Regions from separate parts of the Homo sapiens genome. Here regions 2 and 3 are each linked to region 1. Evidence: fine-mapped expression QTL. A gene starts in region 1. Each other region holds a variant in brackets. All regions are shown on one strand. Distances are between the middles of the regions. Region 1 holds the start of GAPDH (glyceraldehyde-3-phosphate dehydrogenase). Region 2 has its middle 19 kb from the start of CD27. Region 3 overlaps CD27-AS1 (CD27 antisense RNA 1).

Region 1 (8,177 bases):
CTGGATCTCCCAGTTCCTCACAAAGCCCTTCCTATCTGCAGAACTGAGCGGCAGCAGCGAGACCTGGCCTACTGTGTGTCACAGCTGCCCCTCACAGAGCGAGGCCTCCGTAAGATGCTTGACAATTTTGACTGTTTTGGAGACAAACTGTCAGATGAGTCCATCTTCAGTGCTTTTTTGTCAGTTGTAGGCAAGCTGCGACGTGGGGCCAAGCCTGAGGGCAAGGTGAGCAGCACAGGACACTTCAATGCCTGTTGGGTTCTGGGCTGGCTAAGACATCTGCCGGCCCTGGGCAGCATACGGCTCTTGCAGTCACCTTCCCGTCCTCCTTATCCCCAGCTGGGTTGCAACCAAATTGCCAGAGTGACCTAAGACCAGATCTTTGTCTCCAGTTCTTTTTTTATTACTCCAAAAACACAACCAAAGCAGCATCTCATCCAATTCTTGTTTGTTTGTTTTTAATAGTTTTTATTTTTCAGAGCAGTTTTAGGTTCAAAGCAAAATTGAGCAGAAAGTACAGGGAGTTCCCTTCTACCCCTTGCCCCTACACATCACAGCCTTCCCCACCTTCAACATCCTGCACCAGGGTGGCACATTTGTTACAGCTGAACCTACACTTACACATCATCTCCTAAAGTCATGGTTTACCTTGGAGTTCACTGCACGTAATGACATGTACCCACCATTGCAGTATCATACAGAAGAGTTTCACTGCCTTACAAATCCCCTGCACTCCACCTATTTATCCCTCTCTCCCCACAACCCCTGATCTTTTTACTGTTGCCATCACTTTGTCTTTTCCAGAATGTATCATTGGAATGATCCGGTATGGAGCCTTCTCACCTTGGCTTCTTAGTAATGTGCGTTTAAGGCCTCCATGTCTTCCATGGCCTTGTTTCTTTTTAATCAGAAGTAACTGTTTTCAGGCCTGCTCTGAATCTCCTTTTCTCCCTCCAGGCTATAATAGATGAATTTGAGCAGAAGCTTCGGGCCTGTCATACCAGAGGTTTGGATGGAATCAAGGAGCTTGAGATTGGCCAAGCAGGTAGCCAGAGAGCGCCATCAGCCAAGAAACCATCCACTGGTACGTAAGGCAGCCTGTGCGGGCGAGACCAGACTGGGCCCTCCCCTCCTGCAGTGATTTGTTTCTTCTTCTTTTTTAAATCACGTTTTCCTGCCTTTTCTAGGTTCTAGGTACCAGCCTCTGGCTTCTACAGCCTCAGACAATGACTTTGTCACACCAGAGCCCCGCCGTACTACCCGTCGGCATCCAAACACCCAGCAGCGAGCTTCCAAAAAGAAACCCAAAGTTGTCTTCTCAAGTGATGAGTCCAGTGAGGAAGGTATGATGCTCCCGCCTGTTCCCGGCCGAGAAGGCACACAGCTAGGGTGCAGAGGGCTGGTTTCCATAGGACCTGCTGCGGGGGCCTGAGTGTAGATGCTCTGCCCCACTGCCGCAGAAGGGCCTCTCCTGTACAGCTTGGATTTTATTTCTTCTGTGCGGTGTGGGATTGTCTCACTTGTTCTCTGATATCTATTTTTTCACCATCTTTGTGACTCAGCTTTTTCTTATTCCTTTAATTCTTTGCATAGATCTTTCAGCAGAGATGACAGAAGACGAGACACCCAAGAAAACAACTCCCATTCTCAGAGCATCGGCTCGCAGGCACAGATCCTAGGAAGTCTGTTCCTGTCCTCCCTGTGCAGGGTATCCTGTAGGGTGACCTGGAATTCGAATTCTGTTTCCCTTGTAAAATATTTGTCTGTCTCTTTTTTTTAAAAAAAAAAAAGGCCGGGCACTGTGGCTCACGCCTGTAATCCCAGCACTTTGCGATACCAAGGCGGGTGGATAACCTGAGGTAGGGAGTTCGAGACCAGCCTGACCAACATGGAGAAACCCCATCTCTACTAAAAATAAAAAATTAGCCGGGCGTATTGGCGTGCGCCTGTAATCCCAGCTACTCAAGAGGCTGAGGCAGGAGAATCGCCTGAACCCAGAGGCGGAGGTTGTAGTGAGCCGAAATCACACCATTGCACTCCAGCTTGGGCAACAATAGCGAACCTCCATCTCAAATTAAAAAAAAAATGCCTACACGCTCTTTAAAATGCAAGGCTTTCTCTTAAATTAGCCTAACTGAACTGCGTTGAGCTGCTTCAACTTTGGAATATATGTTTGCCAATCTCCTTGTTTTCTAATGAATAAATGTTTTTATATACTTTTAGACATTTTTTCCTAAGCTTGTCTTTGTTTCATCTTTCACATTAGCCCAGTTTCATGCAGCAGAGAGAGGGTTATCAGTGCAGAGAGAGATGAGTGAGCCCAGAGTCCTAGGGCCTGTCCCGGGATGGCAGATGAGCTTCCTGCCCCGTCACTGCCACCTTTCCCCTCTCAACCTCTGGACCCTGCACAGTGACCAGACAGCCTCTCTGGGGAGAATTATGCAGTGCCTAGGCTCCAGATCAGTGCTTCTGAACCGGGGGCAATTTTGTCTGCCAGAGGACATCTGACAACACCTGGGGCCTGTTTTGTTGTCATAGCCTATAGGGGAAGAATGCTACCAGCATTTGTGGGAAGAGGCCAGGGATGTGGCTCAACATCCTGCAGTGCACAGGATGGCCCCTCAACAAAGAATCACACGGCCCACAATGTCAATAGCGTCACAGTTGAGAAAACCTGCTCTAGACCAAGGGTTGCTTTCTGCCGTGTGCCTCACCCCACCCCCACTCGTGTTCCCTAATCCCATCTCCAAAGGTTGGCAGCAGACCGGCCCAGGCTCGTGGAAGTTCAGATCATGATCCCCTCCAGCTCTGCAGGAGACAAGACCTGTCTCCCAGCATTCCTCATTGTTCCCGGGTCTGCAGAGGGCGTGAGCTATGCTGCAGGCGGGCTGCCCCCTGAAGCCTGCGCACCCCTCTCCAGCTCCTCAAGTCTTCTCTGCTGAGTCACCTTCGAACCGGAGGCTGTGAGCTGGCTGTCGTGACCACACTGGTGCCTCTGCTGTCATGACAACAGCACACTACGTCAGTAGTGCTCCCTGGGCACTGAGCTCCCTCTTTGCGGGGAGAAGACAGTAATGAAAAATGACAAGCATGAGGCAGAGGGGAAGATCACGCTTGGGTGGTGCAGGAGCATGGAGGTGCTCTTAATGCTCTCAATGAGAAAGGGTTAACGGTCCTGGTTGCAGGAATAGCTGAGTCAGAGGTGGGGCTTCCTCCACTCCCCCACCCCACCCCTTTCACCATTAGGGACCTTCTTGCCTTGCTCTTGCTACTCTGCTCTGGGTGGTCATTGTGAAAAGCCCGCACCAACCATGCCAGTGGCAGCCAGACGAGGACACAGCCTGGCTCTGGGTCCCAGCAGGAAAGGCAATCCCAGAAAGGCAGGGTCAGGGACTGGAGTCCTGTGGGTGCTTTTTAAGCAAAGATTATCACCAGGCAGGCTAAACTTAGCAACCGGCTTTTAGCTAGAAGGGCAGGGGGCTGGTGTCAGGTTATGCTGGGCCAGCAAAGAGGCCCGGGATCCCCCTCCCATGCACCTGCTGATGGGCCAAGGCCACCCCACCCCACCCCCTTCCTTACAAGTGTTCAGCACCCTCCCATCCCACACTCACAAACCTGGCCCTCTGCCCTCCTACCAGAAGAATGGATCCCCTGTGGGAGGGGGCAGGGGACCTGTTCCCACCGTGTGCCCAAGACCTCTTTTCCCACTTTTTCCCTCTTCTTGACTCACCCTGCCCTCAATATCCCCCGGCGCAGCCAGTGAAAGGGAGTCCCTGGCTCCTGGCTCGCCTGCACGTCCCAGGGCGGGGAGGGACTTCCGCCCTCACGTCCCGCTCTTCGCCCCAGGCTGGATGGAATGAAAGGCACACTGTCTCTCTCCCTAGGCAGCACAGCCCACAGGTTTCCAGGAGTGCCTTTGTGGGAGGCCTCTGGGCCCCCACCAGCCATCCTGTCCTCCGCCTGGGGCCCCAGCCCGGAGAGAGCCGCTGGTGCACACAGGGCCGGGATTGTCTGCCCTAATTATCAGGTCCAGGCTACAGGGCTGCAGGACATCGTGACCTTCCGTGCAGAAACCTCCCCCTCCCCCTCAAGCCGCCTCCCGAGCCTCCTTCCTCTCCAGGCCCCCAGTGCCCAGTGCCCAGTGCCCAGCCCAGGCCTCGGTCCCAGAGATGCCAGGAGCCAGGAGATGGGGAGGGGGAAGTGGGGGCTGGGAAGGAACCACGGGCCCCCGCCCGAGGCCCATGGGCCCCTCCTAGGCCTTTGCCTGAGCAGTCCGGTGTCACTACCGCAGAGCCTCGAGGAGAAGTTCCCCAACTTTCCCGCCTCTCAGCCTTTGAAAGAAAGAAAGGGGAGGGGGCAGGCCGCGTGCAGCCGCGAGCGGTGCTGGGCTCCGGCTCCAATTCCCCATCTCAGTCGTTCCCAAAGTCCTCCTGTTTCATCCAAGCGTGTAAGGGTCCCCGTCCTTGACTCCCTAGTGTCCTGCTGCCCACAGTCCAGTCCTGGGAACCAGCACCGATCACCTCCCATCGGGCCAATCTCAGTCCCTTCCCCCCTACGTCGGGGCCCACACGCTCGGTGCGTGCCCAGTTGAACCAGGCGGCTGCGGAAAAAAAAAAGCGGGGAGAAAGTAGGGCCCGGCTACTAGCGGTTTTACGGGCGCACGTAGCTCAGGCCTCAAGACCTTGGGCTGGGACTGGCTGAGCCTGGCGGGAGGCGGGGTCCGAGTCACCGCCTGCCGCCGCGCCCCCGGTTTCTATAAATTGAGCCCGCAGCCTCCCGCTTCGCTCTCTGCTCCTCCTGTTCGACAGTCAGCCGCATCTTCTTTTGCGTCGCCAGGTGAAGACGGGCGGAGAGAAACCCGGGAGGCTAGGGACGGCCTGAAGGCGGCAGGGGCGGGCGCAGGCCGGATGTGTTCGCGCCGCTGCGGGGTGGGCCCGGGCGGCCTCCGCATTGCAGGGGCGGGCGGAGGACGTGATGCGGCGCGGGCTGGGCATGGAGGCCTGGTGGGGGAGGGGAGGGGAGGCGTGTGTGTCGGCCGGGGCCACTAGGCGCTCACTGTTCTCTCCCTCCGCGCAGCCGAGCCACATCGCTCAGACACCATGGGGAAGGTGAAGGTCGGAGTCAACGGGTGAGTTCGCGGGTGGCTGGGGGGCCCTGGGCTGCGACCGCCCCCGAACCGCGTCTACGAGCCTTGCGGGCTCCGGGTCTTTGCAGTCGTATGGGGGCAGGGTAGCTGTTCCCCGCAAGGAGAGCTCAAGGTCAGCGCTCGGACCTGGCGGAGCCCCGCACCCAGGCTGTGGCGCCCTGTGCAGCTCCGCCCTTGCGGCGCCATCTGCCCGGAGCCTCCTTCCCCTAGTCCCCAGAAACAGGAGGTCCCTACTCCCGCCCGAGATCCCGACCCGGACCCCTAGGTGGGGGACGCTTTCTTTCCTTTCGCGCTCTGCGGGGTCACGTGTCGCAGAGGAGCCCCTCCCCCACGGCCTCCGGCACCGCAGGCCCCGGGATGCTAGTGCGCAGCGGGTGCATCCCTGTCCGGATGCTGCGCCTGCGGTAGAGCGGCCGCCATGTTGCAACCGGGAAGGAAATGAATGGGCAGCCGTTAGGAAAGCCTGCCGGTGACTAACCCTGCGCTCCTGCCTCGATGGGTGGAGTCGCGTGTGGCGGGGAAGTCAGGTGGAGCGAGGCTAGCTGGCCCGATTTCTCCTCCGGGTGATGCTTTTCCTAGATTATTCTCTGGTAAATCAAAGAAGTGGGTTTATGGAGGTCCTCTTGTGTCCCCTCCCCGCAGAGGTGTGGTGGCTGTGGCATGGTGCCAAGCCGGGAGAAGCTGAGTCATGGGTAGTTGGAAAAGGACATTTCCACCGCAAAATGGCCCCTCTGGTGGTGGCCCCTTCCTGCAGCGCCGGCTCACCTCACGGCCCCGCCCTTCCCCTGCCAGCCTAGCGTTGACCCGACCCCAAAGGCCAGGCTGTAAATGTCACCGGGAGGATTGGGTGTCTGGGCGCCTCGGGGAACCTGCCCTTCTCCCCATTCCGTCTTCCGGAAACCAGATCTCCCACCGCACCCTGGTCTGAGGTTAAATATAGCTGCTGACCTTTCTGTAGCTGGGGGCCTGGGCTGGGGCTCTCTCCCATCCCTTCTCCCCACACACATGCACTTACCTGTGCTCCCACTCCTGATTTCTGGAAAAGAGCTAGGAAGGACAGGCAACTTGGCAAATCAAAGCCCTGGGACTAGGGGGTTAAAATACAGCTTCCCCTCTTCCCACCCGCCCCAGTCTCTGTCCCTTTTGTAGGAGGGACTTAGAGAAGGGGTGGGCTTGCCCTGTCCAGTTAATTTCTGACCTTTACTCCTGCCCTTTGAGTTTGATGATGCTGAGTGTACAAGCGTTTTCTCCCTAAAGGGTGCAGCTGAGCTAGGCAGCAGCAAGCATTCCTGGGGTGGCATAGTGGGGTGGTGAATACCATGTACAAAGCTTGTGCCCAGACTGTGGGTGGCAGTGCCCCACATGGCCGCTTCTCCTGGAAGGGCTTCGTATGACTGGGGGTGTTGGGCAGCCCTGGAGCCTTCAGTTGCAGCCATGCCTTAAGCCAGGCCAGCCTGGCAGGGAAGCTCAAGGGAGATAAAATTCAACCTCTTGGGCCCTCCTGGGGGTAAGGAGATGCTGCATTCGCCCTCTTAATGGGGAGGTGGCCTAGGGCTGCTCACATATTCTGGAGGAGCCTCCCCTCCTCATGCCTTCTTGCCTCTTGTCTCTTAGATTTGGTCGTATTGGGCGCCTGGTCACCAGGGCTGCTTTTAACTCTGGTAAAGTGGATATTGTTGCCATCAATGACCCCTTCATTGACCTCAACTACATGGTGAGTGCTACATGGTGAGCCCCAAAGCTGGTGTGGGAGGAGCCACCTGGCTGATGGGCAGCCCCTTCATACCCTCACGTATTCCCCCAGGTTTACATGTTCCAATATGATTCCACCCATGGCAAATTCCATGGCACCGTCAAGGCTGAGAACGGGAAGCTTGTCATCAATGGAAATCCCATCACCATCTTCCAGGAGTGAGTGGAAGACAGAATGGAAGAAATGTGCTTTGGGGAGGCAACTAGGATGGTGTGGCTCCCTTGGGTATATGGTAACCTTGTGTCCCTCAATATGGTCCTGTCCCCATCTCCCCCCCACCCCCATAGGCGAGATCCCTCCAAAATCAAGTGGGGCGATGCTGGCGCTGAGTACGTCGTGGAGTCCACTGGCGTCTTCACCACCATGGAGAAGGCTGGGGTGAGTGCAGGAGGGCCCGCGGGAGGGGAAGCTGACTCAGCCCTGCAAAGGCAGGACCCGGGTTCATAACTGTCTGCTTCTCTGCTGTAGGCTCATTTGCAGGGGGGAGCCAAAAGGGTCATCATCTCTGCCCCCTCTGCTGATGCCCCCATGTTCGTCATGGGTGTGAACCATGAGAAGTATGACAACAGCCTCAAGATCATCAGGTGAGGAAGGCAGGGCCCGTGGAGAAGCGGCCAGCCTGGCACCCTATGGACACGCTCCCCTGACTTGCGCCCCGCTCCCTCTTTCTTTGCAGCAATGCCTCCTGCACCACCAACTGCTTAGCACCCCTGGCCAAGGTCATCCATGACAACTTTGGTATCGTGGAAGGACTCATGGTATGAGAGCTGGGGAATGGGACTGAGGCTCCCACCTTTCTCATCCAAGACTGGCTCCTCCCTGCCGGGGCTGCGTGCAACCCTGGGGTTGGGGGTTCTGGGGACTGGCTTTCCCATAATTTCCTTTCAAGGTGGGGAGGGAGGTAGAGGGGTGATGTGGGGAGTACGCTGCAGGGCCTCACTCCTTTTGCAGACCACAGTCCATGCCATCACTGCCACCCAGAAGACTGTGGATGGCCCCTCCGGGAAACTGTGGCGTGATGGCCGCGGGGCTCTCCAGAACATCATCCCTGCCTCTACTGGCGCTGCCAAGGCTGTGGGCAAGGTCATCCCTGAGCTGAACGGGAAGCTCACTGGCATGGCCTTCCGTGTCCCCACTGCCAACGTGTCAGTGGTGGACCTGACCTGCCGTCTAGAAAAACCTGCCAAATATGATGACATCAAGAAGGTGGTGAAGCAGGCGTCGGAGGGCCCCCTCAAGGGCATCCTGGGCTACACTGAGCACCAGGTGGTCTCCTCT
Region 2 (8,177 bases), 110 kb before region 1:
CTTGGCTCACTGCAAACTCCGCCTCCCGGGTTCACACCATTCTCCTGCCTCAGCCTCCCGAGTAGCTGGGACTATAGGCGCCCGCCACCACGCCCAGCTAATTTTTAATAGAGACAAGATTTCACCATGTTGGCCAGACTGGTCTTGAACTCCTGACCTCAGGTAATCCACTCACCTTGGCCTCCCAAAGTGCTGGGAATACAGGCGTGAGCCACCGCACCCAGCCACAGGAGCTTTTATGTTCAGATCATAACCAGGCGTGGTGGCTCACTCATGTAACCCTAGAACTTTGGGAGGCTGAAGTGGGAAGATTGCTTGAGGCCAGGGGAGTTGGAACCAGCATGGGCAACATAGCAAGACTCTGTCCCTATTTTAATTTTTTAATTTTATTTATTTATTTATTTATTTATTTTGAGACAGATTCTTGCTCTGTTGCCCATGCTGGAGTGCAATGCCATGATCTCAGCTCACTGCAACCTCTGCCTCCCGGGTTTAAGCGATTCTCCTGCCTCAGCCTGCCAAGTAGCTGGGATTACAGGCACGTGCCAACGCATCCAGCTAATTTTTGTATTTTTAGTAGAGACAGGTTTCACCATGTTGACCAGGATGGTCTCGATCTCCTGACCTCGTGATCCGCATGCCTCGGCCTCCCAAAGTGCTGGGATTACAGGTGTGAGCCACCGCACCCGGCCCCTATTTTAATTTTAAAAAGAAAACAAGATCAGGTCATACTTTGGTGCATTCTTTTTTTCTTTCTTTCTTTTTTTTTTTATTTGAGATGGAGTCTCGCTCTATCACCCAAGCTGGAGTGCAGTGCTGCAATCTCGGCTCACTGCAACCTCTGCCTTCCGGGTTCAAGCGATTCTCCTGCCTCAGCCTCCCGAGTAGCTGGGACTATAGGCACTTGCCACCATGCCCAGCTAATTTTTGTATTTTTAGTAAAGATGGGGTTTCACCATGTTGGCTAGGATGGTCTCAATCTCTTGACCTCGTGATCCGCCAGCCTCAGCCTCCCAAAGTATTGGGATTACAGGCGTGAGCCACCACGCCCAGCCTTTGGTATATTCTTTTAGGTTATGTTAAAGATAGATTCTTCAAGTCACAGATAGGAGTACTTGGGATCACCCCTCTGCCCCCACCAGTGGCCCTCCCTTAGGGGGTTCCTCAAATTCTTTGAACTTGCTGAAACCCAGCCTGCTGTGCTGACACAAGAGAAGCCCTGGGAGGATACCCGACGCCTGGCACCTCTGCCCTTATGTCCCTTTTTTTTCTGTTAGAATCCCATTTTGTTTTCTTTTTATAGATGTAGGGAGTACAGTGCAGTTTTGTTACATGGATATATTGAGTAGTGGTGGAGTCTGGGCTTTTAGTATAACCACGATCCGAATAGTGTACATTGTACCCATTGGGAAATTTCTCATCCCTCACCCACCTCCCACCCTCCCACCTTTCCAAATCTCCAATGTCTACTATTGCACTCTCTGTGTCCATGTGCACACATTATTTAGCTCCCACTTATAAATGAGAACATGCAGTATTTGACTCTGTCTCTGAATTATTTCACTTAAGGTAATGGCCTCTAAGGGTTCCATCCACATTGCTGCAAAAGATGTAATTTCATTCTTTTTAATGGCTGAGTAGTATTCCATGGTATAAATATGCCACATTTTCTTTATACAATCATCCATTGGTGGGCCCCTAGGTTGATTCCATATCCCTGCTCTTGTAAACAGTGCTGCGATAAACGTATCTTCAAAATAACAGCCTTGAAGCCCTAATTGGGCTCCTGAGAGGGCCACGTGAGACAGTGTGAAGAGCGAAATCACTATTCTGCCACAAGAGGGCACCCAAAGCCCAGACAGATGGGACGACGCGCTTCCTGCCTCCATTGGAATCAAGCGCATGACTGGATAGCAGAGGCTCCTTGGGCAGGGAGCCACAGCTTGAAGGTCCCAGTTATGCAACTGGCCCCAAGGCCCTTCTACCCCTTCCCCAGGGGACTTCACCAGCTCCTTTTAGGACAGAGTTTGTGTATGGTTCTTGCTGGCTTCAGTCCCTCCCGTAGAGGTGACCCTGAGTAGCTGGGATTACAGGTGCCAGCATATGCACCTGTAATCCCTCCTCCCTGGGGAAAATCTCTGCCCTGGATGGGTAAGATCCTGACCCTGCGTGAACGTGGCATGCGCTTCTGTTCTCCACTCCCTGGAGTTCCTCCTGAGGCCGTGCAGGATCCTGTCCAGTGCTCACAGGCATGAGCATGACTTCAGGGTTGTGAGCAGAGCCCTGCAGAGGTATGCATATGGCTATGGAGTGGTGACCTACTCGGACAGAAAGAATAAGGAAAGGATCCAGTAGCCAGGCCAAAAGGAAGAGGCACCAAGAAGGGCTGCAGCTTGAGGGTGGAGATTCCAGACTTCCAGATACTCTAGTGGGGGTACGATTTGGACCCAGGAGGCAGGTTGCAAATCTAAACCCATCAGAAGCATATGGACTCTTCTTTTGATTAGTTGTCAATGCGAAAAAATTTTTTTAATTTTTAAAAAGGGTATAGACTTAGACAAACTCAGAACTATTAAATTTATAATGTAGTTTGAAACATTTAAGGGAACATTGTACTAAACTGAGAACTATATAGATGTACGCAGGCCCAAGTCTGGCTTCCTAGCCTCAAATCTGGCAAATAAATAAGGTTAGCCTTCCTGAGACGGTAATCACAGATCACGGTCATACACTGCCCACTTGAGTAAAACCGTTCCCCTTGGGGACGAGTGTTCTTTTAACCCCAAGAAGGTTTGGAATCAATCTTTATGATGGCTTTTACCCTCTCAACTTAGCTAAGACGAAACCATATTTCTTGGAAATTAATCCCTGTATGGTTCTGGGTGAGGGTTGGCCACAAGAGAAATGTAAGATTTGAGAGGTAGGAAAACAGAATAGGAGCGGCCGTCGTGCTCTGAGGCCAGCATGGGGTGACAGTCATCTGCTGGCTCACCTTGTCTGCACGGATGGCAGCCAGACTGGCAGCTCTTCCAGCTCCCGTCAGATCGCCTCCTTCAGCTTCTCTAATTCTTGGCCACACAAGTGCAACTCCGTGGCAAGGAGTGCTAGGTCCTTCTGCAGACACCCATACCATCGGGGTGGGTGGTGGTGAGGCACAGACGCAGGCTCCGGATGGCCTTTGCCCTGCCCCCACTTCACATCCAGTGCTTCTCCCAACTGACCCATAGTGACCTCAGGTCCACCACAGATACGGAGGCCTCCAAAGACTCCTTCCCCAGCTGCCATGATTGATTAAGGTCTAATCTCTAAAATAAGTTCCTTATTCCATAACACTCATAGTGGTTTTGACTCTCTGGTCAAACCTTAACTGATAAAAATCAAAAGTGATGAAGCAAATCAAACTCATGCTAAGTTTCAAACAGGTTTTAACCACTGCATGCATTTGGTACTTAAAGTTTTTGTAATGCTTAAAAGAATCTGACATATATTAATACTTAAATAGGAAATGCATGAAACTACAGAAAAAAAAATTAAAAAAATTTTAAACAATTTGACATAGAAGTATTATAGATTAGCCTCATTATTATATTAATATTTAAAATGTATAATTGCCGGGCATGGTGGCTCATGCCTGTAATCCTAGCACTTTGGAAGACTGAGGCGGGCAGATCGCTTTGAGCCCAGGAGTTCAAGACCAGCCTGGACAACCTGGTGAAACCCTGTCCCTAGTAAAAATGCAAAAACTAGCTGGGCTTCATGGCGTGCGCCTGTAGTTCCAGCTACTCGGGAGGCTGAGGTGGGAGGACTGCTTGAGGCGAGGAGTTCGAGGCTACAGTGAGCCGTGATCACACCACTACACTCTAGCCTGGGCAACAGAGCCAGACCCTGTCTCACAAAACAAAA[G/C]AAACAAACAAACCACACAAACTTGCAACATCCTGCTTCTTGCAGCTCTCCCCATCCGGCCCACCCCATTCCTTTGGCGTGAAAATATGATGGGGTCTCCTCAGCCCTAGAAGCACCCACACCGTTCAACCTAAAGCTCCCACTGACTAGCTGAGCTCTCATAAAGGTGAGATTTGTCGCATACGCCTCCCATACACCTCTTCCTAGTAGATTTCTTCACTCTTTCCCTTCCATTCTGAGCACGGCCCCACTTAAGGAACTCTCAGCTCTCATGTTGCCCTATCCCAGTCAAGAAGGAAGTTGCTGGTGATCAAGTCATACTCCAGTGAACACTGACTGGCACCTCTTCTGCATCAAGTCCTAGCAGGGCATTCACCCGAGTTACCAAACATGGCTGCTCACACCCGCCCTCCGAGGCCAGCATCTGCATCCCCATGTGACAGTGGAAACAAACCCACGGAGCCTGAGCAACTGGGCAGCCAGCAAGTGACTGAGCAGAGAGACGGCCTTGGACGCAGGCCAAGCAGCACAGATTTACTCGAATCATCCTCCGCTCCTTCAGATTTTCACCAGCTGATTGATCCTTGGACTTCCCCCCCAGGCTTCTCTGACATCACCAGCCACCAGGACCCTGCCTATGCCTGTGGCCTGCAACATTCCTCTATGCACATCAAAGTAGGGAGCATCAGGCCGGGTGCGGTGGCTCACACCTGTAATCCTAGCACAATGAAAGACCGAGGTGGGCAGATAACTTGAGACCAGGAGTTCAAGACCAGCCTGGCCAACACGGCGAAACCCCATCTCTACTAAAAATACAAAACAATTAAGCAGGGATGATGGTGTGTGCCTGGGGTCCCAGCTACTTGGGAGGCTGAGGCATGAGAATTGTTTGAACCCGAACCCAAGGCTGAGGCAGAAGTTGCAGTGAGCCAAGATCGCGCCACTGCACTCCAGCCTGGGTGAGAGAACTCCAGCCTGGGTGACAGAGGGAGGCTCCATCTCCCAAAAAACAAAACAAAACAAACAAACAAAAAAAACAAGTAGACAGCATCAATTCTGGCCAACTTATGGGTAAAAGAGAAGGCTGCCACAGCCCTTGCCCTTTGGGAGTGCCTGTCCCTTCAGTAGCTGCCCCAAAAATCCTGCAGAAGAGAAGGGTCAGAGGAAGCACCTGTAATAAAGGGTGAGGCCCCACCAACCCACTCTCTTCCTCTCCTCTCCTAGCCGAGGGAGCCATCAGAGGCAAAGGGAGTGTGGGAAAGATTAGTCAGACATGTTTCCCTTTGTGTCACAGAGTCAAACTCTCCATCCGTGACTTCAGAAAAGTCACAAGAGAGCCCCAGCAACGGCCCACAGGGTGTCATAGCAACACGCCTACACCTCAAGGTGCCACCTTCCAACTCTGGAGAAAACAACTGCCTTCTTCAAATGTCAACTGCTACATGGGCAAAGAGCAACTTGAAAATGAAATTCGGGGCTGGGCGCAGTGGCTCACACCTGTAATCATTTTGAGAGTCCAAGGCGGGTGGATCACTTGAGCCCAGGAGTTCCAGACCAGCCTGGGCAACATGGCAAAACCACATGTCTTCAAAAAAATACAAAAAGTAGACAGGCATGATGGCATGCACCTGTAGTCCCAGCTACTCGGGAGGCTGAAGTGGGAGGATCACTTGAACCCGGGAAGTGCAGGCTGCAGTGAGCCGAGGTTGCACCACTGCACTCCCCACTCAGTCTGGGTGACAGAGCGAGACACTGTCTAAAAAAAAAAAAAGAAGAAGAAAAAAAGAAAGAAAGAAAATGAAATTGAAATTAGGGGCCGGGCACAGTGGCTCATGCTTGTAATCCTAGCACTTTGGGAGGCCGAGGCAGGCGGGATCACCTGAGGTCAGGAGTTTGAGACCAGCCTAACCATGATGGTAAAACCCAGTCTCTACTAAAAACACAAAATTAGCTGGGCATGTGTGGCGCATGCCTGTAATCCCAGCTATTCAGGAGGCTGAGGCAGGAGAATCACTTGAACCCAGGAGGTGGAGATTGCAATGAGCCGAGACTGCGCCATTGCACTCCAGCCTGGGCAACAAGAGCGAAACTCCATCTCAAAAAAAAAAAAAAATGAAATTAGGAAAAACAACTCAATTTACAATAGCATCAAAAAGAATAAATACTTAGGCATACATTGGCCAGGTGCGGTGGCTCACATCTGTAATTCCCACATTTTGGGAGGCCAAGGCAGGCGGATCACCTGAGGTCAAGAGTTCGAGACCAGACTGGCCGACATGATAAAACCCTGTCTCTACTAAAAATACAAAAAATTAGCCAGGCGTGGTGGCAGGCACCTATAATCCCAGCTACTCGGGAGGCTGAGGCTGCAGAATCGCTTGAACCTGGGAAGCAGAGGCTGCAGTGAGCTGAGATTGGGCCGCTGCACTCCAGCCTGGACAACAGAGTGAGACTCTGTCTCGAGAAAAAAAAAAAAAAACTTGGTATACATTTAACAAAGAAAGTGCAAGACTCATACACTGAAAACTAGAAAACATTGTTGAAAGACATTAAAGAAATCCTAAATAAATGGAAAGACATCTGTGTTCATGGACTGAAGGTAACAATATTTCCCAATTTCATCTACAGACTCTATGCAATCCCCATCGAAATTCTAACTGCCTTCTTTTTTGCATAAATGGACAAGCTGATCTTAAAATTCACATGCAAATGCAAGGGACACAGAGTAGCCAAAATAATTTTGAAAAAGAAGAACGAAGTTGAAGTCCCAATTTCGAAACTTACTATAAAGCTACAGTAATCAAAACCATGGTATTGACCTAAAGACAGACATACAGATCAATGGAATACAATTTAGAGTCCAGAAATCAACCCATACATCTATTGTCAATTAATTTCAGCAAGGGTGCCAAGACCATTCTGTGTGAAAAGAATAGTCTTTTCAAGAAGCAGTGCTAGGACAACTGCATATCCACAAGTAAAAGAATGAAGTTGGACCCCTACCTAAAACCAGATAAAAAATTTAACTCAAAATAAATCAAAGAACTAAATTTAAGAGTTAAAACTATAAAACTCTTAGAGGGAAATATAAGTGAAAATCTGTATGAGTTTGGATTCGGCAACAGTTTCTCAAATATGATGCCAAAAGCACAGGCAACAAAAGAAACAGTAGATAAACTGGACTTCATCAAAATGTGAAACTTTTTTTTTTTTTTTTGAGACGGAGTCTCGCTCTGTCTCCCAGGCTGGAGTGCAGTGGCGTGATCTCTGCTCACTGCAAGCTCCGCCTCCTGGGTTCACGCCATTCTCCTGCCTCAGCCTCCCGAGTAGCTGGGACTACAGGCGCCCGCCACCACGCCCGGCTAATTTTTTGTATTTTTAAGAGACGGGGTTTCAGCATATTGGCCAGGCTGGTCTCCATCTCCTGACTTCGTGATCCGCCCGCCTTGGCCTCCCAAAGTGCTGGGATTACAGGCATGAGCCACCATGCCCGGCCCAAAATGTGAAATTTTTATGCATCAAAGGGCACTATTAAGAAGGTAAAAAGACAACCCACAGTATGGGATAAATTTTTTTTTTTTTTTTTCTGAGACGGAGTCTCGCTCTATCGCCCAGGCTGGAGTTCAGTTGTGCGATCTCGGCTCACTGCAAACTCTGCCTCCCGGGTTCCACACCATGCTCCTGCCTCAGCCTCCCGAGTAGCTGGGACTACAGGCGCCCGCCACAACGCCTGGCTAAATTTTTTTTTTTTTTTTTTTTAATTTTTAGTAGAGACGGGGTTTCACTGTGTTAGCCAGGATGGTCTCGATCTCCTGACCTCGTGATCTGCCCGCCTCGGCCTCCCAAAGTGCTGGAATTACAGGTGTGAGCCCCCGCCCCGGGCCAGAGAAAATATTTTCAAATCACTTATCTAGTAAGGTCTAGAATTCATAATATCAAAAAGAAAAAAAAAAAAACTCTTGCAACTCAGCAACAAAAGACACAAATAATTTAATTTAAACACGGGCAAAGGACTTGAACAGACATTTCTCCAAAGAAAATATACAAATGGCGATGAGCACATAAGAAGATTCTCAACATCATTAGTCTTAGTGAAATACAAATCAAAACCACAATAAGATACCACTTCACACCAACTAGGGTAGTTATAACTTTTTCAAAAATAGAAATGTATCTGTGATATTTGCACATCTTTGTGAATATAGTAAAAGCACTGAATTGCACATTTTTAAATGATGAAAATGATTCATTTTATCTCAGTAAAAGTCTAGCCA
Region 3 (8,177 bases), 97 kb before region 1:
ACTAAGGAGGTAGGGAGAGGACCAGGGATTGGGGGAGGAGATTGATCAAAGGGAACCTGAGTCTTCTCTATAATTTTCCATTTTTTTTCATTTTCACCTCCAATTTTTAAAATATAATTTGTACTTTTTATTGTGAACTAAGATATGTAAAATAGTACATAAAAATAACACATTGAAAACCCACGTTCAGATCAGAAGATTAGTAGAACCTTCGAAGCGCCCTGATCACACCTTCCCTCCTCACCGGGGGAAGCAGCTCTGGCTTGTGTCTATCACTTCCTCACTTTCCTTTCTAGTTCTACCATCTGTGTGCACCCTGAACAGCAAACTGCTTCATTTTGCCTGTTTTTGAACTTTATAAATGGAATCGTATGTACTTTTCTATGCCTTGCTTCTGTGTGTTTGTGCACTATCACTTAACATGTTTTTCTATCTATTTATTTATTTATATTGTGGTAAAATATACATAAAATTTACCATTTAAACTATTTTTAAATGTATAATTCAGGGGGCATGAAGTACATTCACGATGTACAATATTATATTTTTGACATTCATGCAAATTAATCTACATGGCTACATGCAGGTGGTTCATATTCATTCCTCTAAAGCATTCCATTGGGTGAATATACAACAATTTATTATCCAACTACCGTTCTCTCCTTCCTTCCTCCCTCCTTCCCTCCCTTCTTTTCCTCCTTTCTTTCTTTCTCTTTCTTTCTTTCTTCCTTTCTTTCTTTCTTTCTCTTTCTTTTTCCTTCCTTCCTTCCTTCCTTCCTCCCTTCCTCCCTTCTCCTTTCTTTTCTTCCTTTCTTTTGCAGTGGCGCGATCTCGGCTCATTGCAACCTCCGCCTCTCAGGTTCAAGCTATTCTTATGCCTCAGCCTCCAGAGTAGCTGGGACTACAGGCATGTGCCACCACGCCCGGCTAATTTTTGTATTTTTAGTAGAGATGGGGGTTTGCCGTGTAGCCCAAGCTGGTCTCAAACTCCTGGGCTCAAGCCATCTGCCCGCCTCCATCTCTCAAAGTGCTGGGATTACAGGTGTGAGACACCACAGCAGCTTGCTTGCTTGCTTGCTTTTTCTTTTGGAATTACAAACAGTAGTGCTTGAATATTTTTGCATATGTCTCCTGGGGCACAGGTACAAGCACTCTTAGTGCATTTACCTACTGATGAAAATGATGGATTTTGCTGGTTTAATTTTTTATAAGGAGGTGATATGAATATTGCTTTTATAATTAAATTTCAATTTTAAAAAAGAAGAGAAAGCAGTTGGGATGGGCTCATAGAGTGAAAGGGCAGGGAACGGTCTATGAGACCAGAAGAAGACAGGCAGGAAGGGCGGCTGAGCCATGCCTGCAGGCTGAGCATGGAAGGTACTGTGAGTACACAGTCAGATCGGCACAGGAAATGAGCACCTTTGAGGCGTCCACTCTGTAGGGGCTCGTCAACAGTAGACTGGGGTTCAGGAGACCTGGGTTCTCTCCCAGCTCTGCCACACAGGGAAAGTCATTTCACCTCTGCACCCCACGGTTCTGATAGCTGTAGAGTGAGAGGGTAAAGCCGAAGGTTGGAATCATTTTCCAGCCCTGCTGGCTTGAAATCCTAAGCTGGCTGGAGCAGTAAGATGGGGGCTCCCCATAGGCCCACAGGACCTTCTACCTAGAAGCCAGGAGGAGGGGACAGGAGCCCAGATAGGAAAGAACTCTGTCTCTCCAAGACCCAAAAAATGACTAAAAGTAATGACTGGGCCTCACCCCAGTAAGTCAGTAGTGGTGGTGCGGTGGTTAACAGCCAGCTCTCGGAGTGGGAAGCCCTTGATCTATGGCGTTTGCTGATGTATGTGGTTGTAAGTATTCCTACTATGGCCAGCTGGCCAATTTCAAGCTACCAACGAGTAACCTCACAAAATTCCTGAAAATGTAAGGATCGGGCTTTGGCTAGGCAGTACTAGCAGGCTCCAGCACGGCCCTAGGAAGGAAGCTGCCCTAAGAGCTCAGGCTCAGACACCGCACCACGGACTAGCAGGGGAAACAAAGGTCTTAGGTCCCTCTCAGGGCTCACAGTCATGAGGCTCAGAAACAGCTGGGGAAAGTGGGGCGTGCCTCCCTCCCCGCCACAGGGAGGATCACCAGACTGGCTCCATGAGCCATTTCCCTCATCTGGTGAGCAAGGGAAGTCACTCAGAAGAGCAAGAATGGCCCAGCCACCCAGCACGGTGGCTCACACCTGTAATCCCAGCATTTTAGGAGGCAAAGGTGGGCAGATCACTTGAGCTCAAGAGTTCGAGACCAGCCTGGGGAACATGGTGAAACTCCATCTCTACAAAAAATACAAAAATTAGCTGGGCTTGCAGGGCACGGTGGCTCACGCTTGTAATCCCAGCACTTTGGGAGGCCAAGGCTGGCGGATCACCTGACATCGGGAGTTTGAGACCAGCCTGAACAACATGGAGAAACCCTGTCTCTACTAAAAATACAAAATTAGCTGGGCGTGGTGGCGCATGCCTGTAATCCTAGCTACTCTGGAGGCTGAGGCGGGAGAATCGCTTGAACCCAGGAGGGAGAGGTTGCAGTGAGCAGAGATCGCGCCATTGCACTCCAGCCTAGGCAGCAAGAGCGGAACTCCATCTCAAAAAAAATAAATTAATTAATTATCTGGGCTTGGTGGCGCATGCCTATAGTCACAGATATTTTGGGGGGCTGAAGCAGGAGGATTGCTTGAGTTCAGAAGGTCGAGGCTACAGTGAGCCGAGATGGTGCCACTGCACTCCAGCCTGGGTGACAGAGCAAGACCCTGTTTCAAAAAAAAAAAAAAAAAGCGAGTAGAAAATGCCAGGGGCAGTTGGGCACAGTGGCTTACGCCTCTAATCCTAGCACTTTGGGAGGCCAAGGCGGGTGGATCACCTGAGGTCAGGAGTTCAGACCAGCCTGGTCAACATGGTGAAACCCCGTCTCTACTAAGAATACAAAAATTAGCCAGGAGTGGTAGCGCATGCCTGTGATCCCAGCTACTTGGGAGGCTGAGACAGGAGAATTGCTTGAACCTGGGAGGTGGAGGTTGCAGTGAGCCAAGATCTTGCCACTGCACTCCAGCCTCGGTGACAGAGTGAGACTCCATCTCAAAAAAAGAAAGAAAAAAAATGCCAGGGGCCCAGGAGCCTACTGTGAGAGGAAACGTCCCGTCGCCTTGTGAAATCATGATTCTGCGTGATGAAGAACCGAGTATGAATAATACATACAGAGCAGACATATCGCCTATGCACAGCTTGTTCAATTTAGTGAGTCGTTCTGTCTCTTTCACACTCCTTTGGTTTCGTTCCCAGGTTAACTAGCTGTTCCCTCAACCCCATTTCTTGGGACTTGCAGCCTCAAATACCAAGGAAGAGAGAGGAGGAATGAATATTTATTGAGTACCCAAACAAGACAAGACCAGACATTTCATTTCTATTGTTACCCTTAATTGTCCCAACATGCTGCAAAGTGCACGACACTATCCTCAAGCAGATGAGGACTCAGTCAAGAGGTTGTGGGACATGCTGGACATGATGCGGGTAGTAGCCGGCAGAGAGGCATTTGGACCACCAACCTGTCTGGTTGTGAAAGTCAAGCTCTCTCCACCTATCCCAGGATCCTCCTGTCTCAGTGGGTTTGGGCCCTGGAACCACCCTTCAGTTCCAGGTCAAGACTGCTCCCTTCATAGCGACATCTTTCCCTCACTGTTTCTCCCCTTGCCTGGTATCTGAGAAATTCCTTTTATAGGTCTTGCCCTTCCCT[G/A]GCTACATAGACTGAGAGTCAGAAAACCTCAGTAGTCAGCACTCAAACCTTACACCTAACAATTTACATAATATCTGATTTCAGAAATTAGCTTTACCTCAGATCAAAATTAATCCTATAAATCACAGATCACGTAAAATCACAAGTGTGACAAGTCCCAAAAAAGAAAGTGTGACCAGGCTCACGCCTTGTAATCCCAGCACTTCGGGAGGCAAAGGTGGGAGGATTGCTTGAGCCCAGGAATTTAAGGCCAGCCTGGGCTACATAGCAAGACTTTGTCTCTACAAAAAGATAACAAATAAAAAAAAAAATTAGCCAGGTGTGGTCCCAGCTACTCGAGAGGCTGAGGCAAGAGGATTGCTTGAGCCCAGGAGATTGAGGCTGTATTGAGCTGTGTTGCCACTGCACTCCAACCTAGGCAACAGAGGGAGACCCTGTCTCAAACAAACAAACAAACAAAAAAAGAGGCTGGGCATGGTGGCTCACGCCTATAATCCCAGCACTTTGGGAGGCCGAGGCAGGCGGATCACGAGGTCAGGAGATTGAGACCATCCTGATGAACACGGTGAAACCCTGTCTCTACTAAAAATACAAAAATATTAGCCGGGCGTGGTGGCGGGCGCCTGTAGTCCCATCTACTTGGGAGGCTGAGGCGAGAGAATGGCCTGAACCCAGGAGGCGGAGCTTGCAGTGAGCCGAGATCGCGCCACTGCACTCCAGCCTGGGTGACAGAGCGAGACTCCGTCTCAAAAAAAAAACAACAACAACAACAAAAACATAACTATAGGTCTGTGCTCGGCCAGGTATGGGGGTAAAATTTATATTACCCACGTGGTTGGGAAACCTCCTTTATCCCCAAGAAAAGAACATGAAAACTGGTCTCAAGCCAGTGACATCCCTGGGGCGTCTGACAAAAGCAACTGCAAAAACACTGAAGGGACATGTACTCAACCCAACCACCAAGGTGGCCCACAGAAAAAGCCTGTTGAATATGCACTTTCTTTCCCTCTCTCTCTCTCTTTAATGGAGATGGGGTCACACTCCGTCACCGGCACTGGAGTACAGTGGGGTCTCACTGTGTTGCCCAGGCTGGTCTCAAACTCCTGGCCTCAAGCCATCCTCCTGCCTCAGCCTCCCCAAGTGCTGAGATTATGGTGTGAGCCACTGTGATGGGCTTGAAGATGCACTTTTGATTCAAAATTAGAAAACACACCTGAAACAGTCTGACCTAGAGAAACTTTTTCATCTAAGTCAGTCATAAAAATCAAATATTTGTGCTTAGACTCAGATCAATCTATATAAAGTGTTGAGGAAAGTTTTTTAATAACAAAACACATTAAATCATATTGCTCTTACTAAATATATTACTGTTAATGTTTTATTATATTGTGGAAAATTTTGTTACCTATTAATATTTTAATGAGAGCAACTAGATCTTTTATGTTGCAAATAAGTAAATGTGATATCTTTAAAAATTGTTTTTCCTATCCTTATCTCATTGTTTTTATTTTACTTTTATTATTTTGTTGTTGTTGCCCACACTGGTCTCAAACTCCTGAGCTCATCGATCCTCCCACCTCAGCTTCCCAAAGTGCTGGGATTACAGGCATGAGCCACTGCATCTAGCCAATCTCATCCTTTTTATGTTTCTGTATGTGACTATGTAATTCGATCTCATCCTTTAGAACTTTAGAATGTCTACATATACTTACATAGAACCTATTTGAGTATATAATATATGATTAATTTATTTAAAATATTGTGGGGAGTCGAGCCAGCGTCGCCGCAGTGATGTCGTTGGAGAGCAAGCAATTCCTGACGGAGCTGACCAGACTCTACCAGAAGTGCCGGACGTTGGGCAGCGTCTATATCACCTTGAAGAAGTATGATGGTCGAACCAAACCCATTCCAAAGAAAGGTTCTGTGGAGGGCTTTGAGCCCTCAGACAACAAGTGTCTGTTAAGAGCTATCGATGGGAAAAAGAAGATGAGCACTGTGGTGAACTCCAAGGAAGTGAGTAAGTTTCAGATGGCTTATTCAAACCTACTGAGAGCTAACATGGACGGGCTGAGAAGAGGGACAAAAAGAGCAAAAGGAAAAAGACCAAAGCAGCAGCACAGTAAAGGGCACAAATTCCCTGCTTTCACCAATTAACCACTGAATTGCTATTTTTTCCTTTGGTTTTTACTTTTGGCCACATAGCTAGGTTTCTGGTTCCCCCACAGTAGGTGTTTTCACATAAGATTAGGGTCCTCTTGGAAAGAATAGTTGCCATGTTTACAGGGTAGTTGTGGTAAGAATCTAGTTTATTTTACATGTGACTAATTGGTCTGTGCTGCATGGTTATATACTCCTGGATTATAGATTAGAAGTCTCCGAAGTCACCTCTGTGAAAAGCAAGCTATCATTAAACATGTCTGTTTATCAATCAATCAATAAATAAAATATTGTTTATTTGGGGATACATGCTGAAAATCATTTTATTGATGGGGTACAAAATAAAAAAAAAAAGCAGAGACTACTGAATTAGAAATATACATTTTTTCAGGCACAGATGGAACATTTACAACCACATACTAGGCCATAGAGCAAATCTCAAACAAATGCCAGAGGATTCATATGTATTCATTTTCTACAGCTGCTACAACAAATTACCACAAACTTAGTGGTTGAAAACAACCCAAATGTATTATGTTACAGCTCTACAGGTCAGAAGTCTAAAACAGGCCTCACCAGGCTACAATCAGTGATGGCAGGTACAGCTGCCCCTGGAGGCTGAAGGGTCAAATCCATCTCCTTGCCCCTTCCAGCTTCTAGAAGCCGCCCACATACTGAGGCTCATGGCCTTCTTCTTCCAACTTCAAAGTCAGCAACATCTTGATCCTTCTCATGCAGCTGCCTCTCTGGCGCTGTCTCCTCTGCCTCTTTGCCACTTACAAGGATGCTTGTGATTACACTGGGTCTACCTGGATAATGCAGAATAATCACCCATTGCAAGGCCAACCTTGATTCCATCTGCAGCCTTAACTCCCCTTTGCCATATTAACATGCAGTTCAGGGGCGCAGATGTCCTCGGGGGACCAACGTGCTGCCTGCCATGCTACACAGACAGAGTGCTCGGGCCACAATAAATTTAAAATTAAAATAATAAACAACAAAAAGTTAAGCCCCACAGATCTGGAAAATTTGTAATGCATTTATAAATGAAATATAGGTAAAAATAAATAATAACGGGAAAAGCAAATCAACAATAATGAAAAAAACAATATAGCAAAGCTGATGAGATGTAGCTAAAGTAGATCTTCAAGGGAAGTTTATAGCCTTAAATGCATATATTAGAAAATAAGAAATTTCTAAATTAATTAAGCATCCAATACATTAGAAAAAGAATGGCAAAGTATGCCGGGTGCAGTGGCTCACATCTGTAATCCCAGCACTTTGAGAGGCCAAGGTAGGTGGATCACTTGAGCTCAAGAGTTCGAGACAAGCCTGACCAACATGGTGAAACCACGTCTCTACTAACAATACAAAAATTAGCCAGGTGTGGTGGCGCACACCTGTAATCCCAGCTACTAAGGAGGCTGAGGCAGGAGAATCACTTGACCTCAGGAGGAGGAGGTTGCAGTGAGCCAAGATCATGCCACTGCACTCCAGCCTGGGCAACAGAGCAAGACAGCCTAAAAAAAATAATAATAATAACAGTGAAACAGCTACACACAAGCAAATCAAGTTCTACCAGGCTTTCAAGGAACAGATTATCCCTATTGTATATAATCTGTATATAAAAAAATAAAAAATAGCACTTAAAAAACAAGTGGTCAAAGCAAGGAAAATAGAATCGTGTCACAGAAACCAAGGGAAGTAATAATTCTCATGTAGGTGGAGAGCTGCCAGATCCCACATATCTCTGTTAAACTTTGCTTCCTGGATGAGGCACTCCCTACCCCTTAAATCCCCCTATTAGGGGTATAGACACCTATATTGCACCCCAACTCTCTCCTTCATAGCAATAATGACCATTACTAACTAATTTTAATTTTGTTTTGTTTTTTGGGTTTTGTGAGATGAGGTCTTGCTCTATCTCCCAGGCTTGAGTGCACTGGCATGATCATGGCTCACTGCAACCTCGACCCCCTGGGCTCAAGTGATCCTCCCACCTCAGCCTTCCGAGTGGCTGGGACCACAGGCACGTGCCACCACACCCAGTTAATTTATTTTTATTATGTGTAGAGACGGGGTGTCACTCTGTTGCCCAGGCTGGTCTTAAACTCCTAGGCTCAAGCAATCCTTCCGCCTCGGCCTCCCAACGTGACTGGGATTCCAGGTGTGAGCCGCCTCACCTGGCCAATTTTACATTTGTCTTTGAGATTATATGATCGATGTCTGACTCTCACACTGGT

Evidence for each region.
Region 2: its variant is fine-mapped to the expression of GAPDH in whole blood (TOPMed, PIP above 0.99).
Region 3: its variant is fine-mapped to the expression of GAPDH in whole blood (INTERVAL, PIP above 0.99).

The regions. Positions count from the first base shown.
Region 1 is chr12:6,529,734-6,537,910 of GRCh38, forward strand. It overlaps GAPDH (glyceraldehyde-3-phosphate dehydrogenase), which reads left to right and starts at 4,784. Exons shown (of 9, transcript NM_002046.7): 1 at 4,784-4,836; 2 at 5,077-5,128; 3 at 6,761-6,860; 4 at 6,951-7,057; 5 at 7,187-7,277; 6 at 7,368-7,483; 7 at 7,576-7,657; 8 at 7,851-8,177. The coding sequence starts at 5,100. NCAPD2 (non-SMC condensin I complex subunit D2) reads left to right here. Exons shown (of 32, transcript NM_014865.4): 29 at 42-225; 30 at 958-1,084; 31 at 1,188-1,343; 32 at 1,594-2,222. The coding sequence ends at 1,679. GAPDH-DT (GAPDH divergent transcript) reads right to left here and starts at 4,674. Exons shown (of 2, transcript XR_002957397.2): 1 at 3,731-4,674; 2 at 2,183-3,410. RefSeq lists enhancers at 2,926-3,055, 3,016-3,789, 3,790-4,563, 4,564-5,337, 6,886-7,659 and silencers at 3,966-4,215, 4,936-5,075.
Region 2 is chr12:6,421,880-6,430,056 of GRCh38, forward strand. No RefSeq gene overlaps it. Among named protein-coding and RNA genes, the nearest start is that of CD27, 19 kb to the right of the region's middle. RefSeq lists enhancers at 1,588-1,637, 4,949-5,058, 5,099-5,338. The variant G/C (reference allele first, on the strand shown) is at 3,904.
Region 3 is chr12:6,432,934-6,441,110 of GRCh38, forward strand. It overlaps CD27-AS1 (CD27 antisense RNA 1), which reads right to left. Exons shown (of 6, transcript NR_015382.2): 6 at 6,068-6,743. It also overlaps the pseudogene SRP14P1. Among named protein-coding and RNA genes, the nearest start is that of CD27, 7.9 kb to the right of the region's middle. RefSeq lists an enhancer at 1,475-1,975. The variant G/A (reference allele first, on the strand shown) is at 3,778.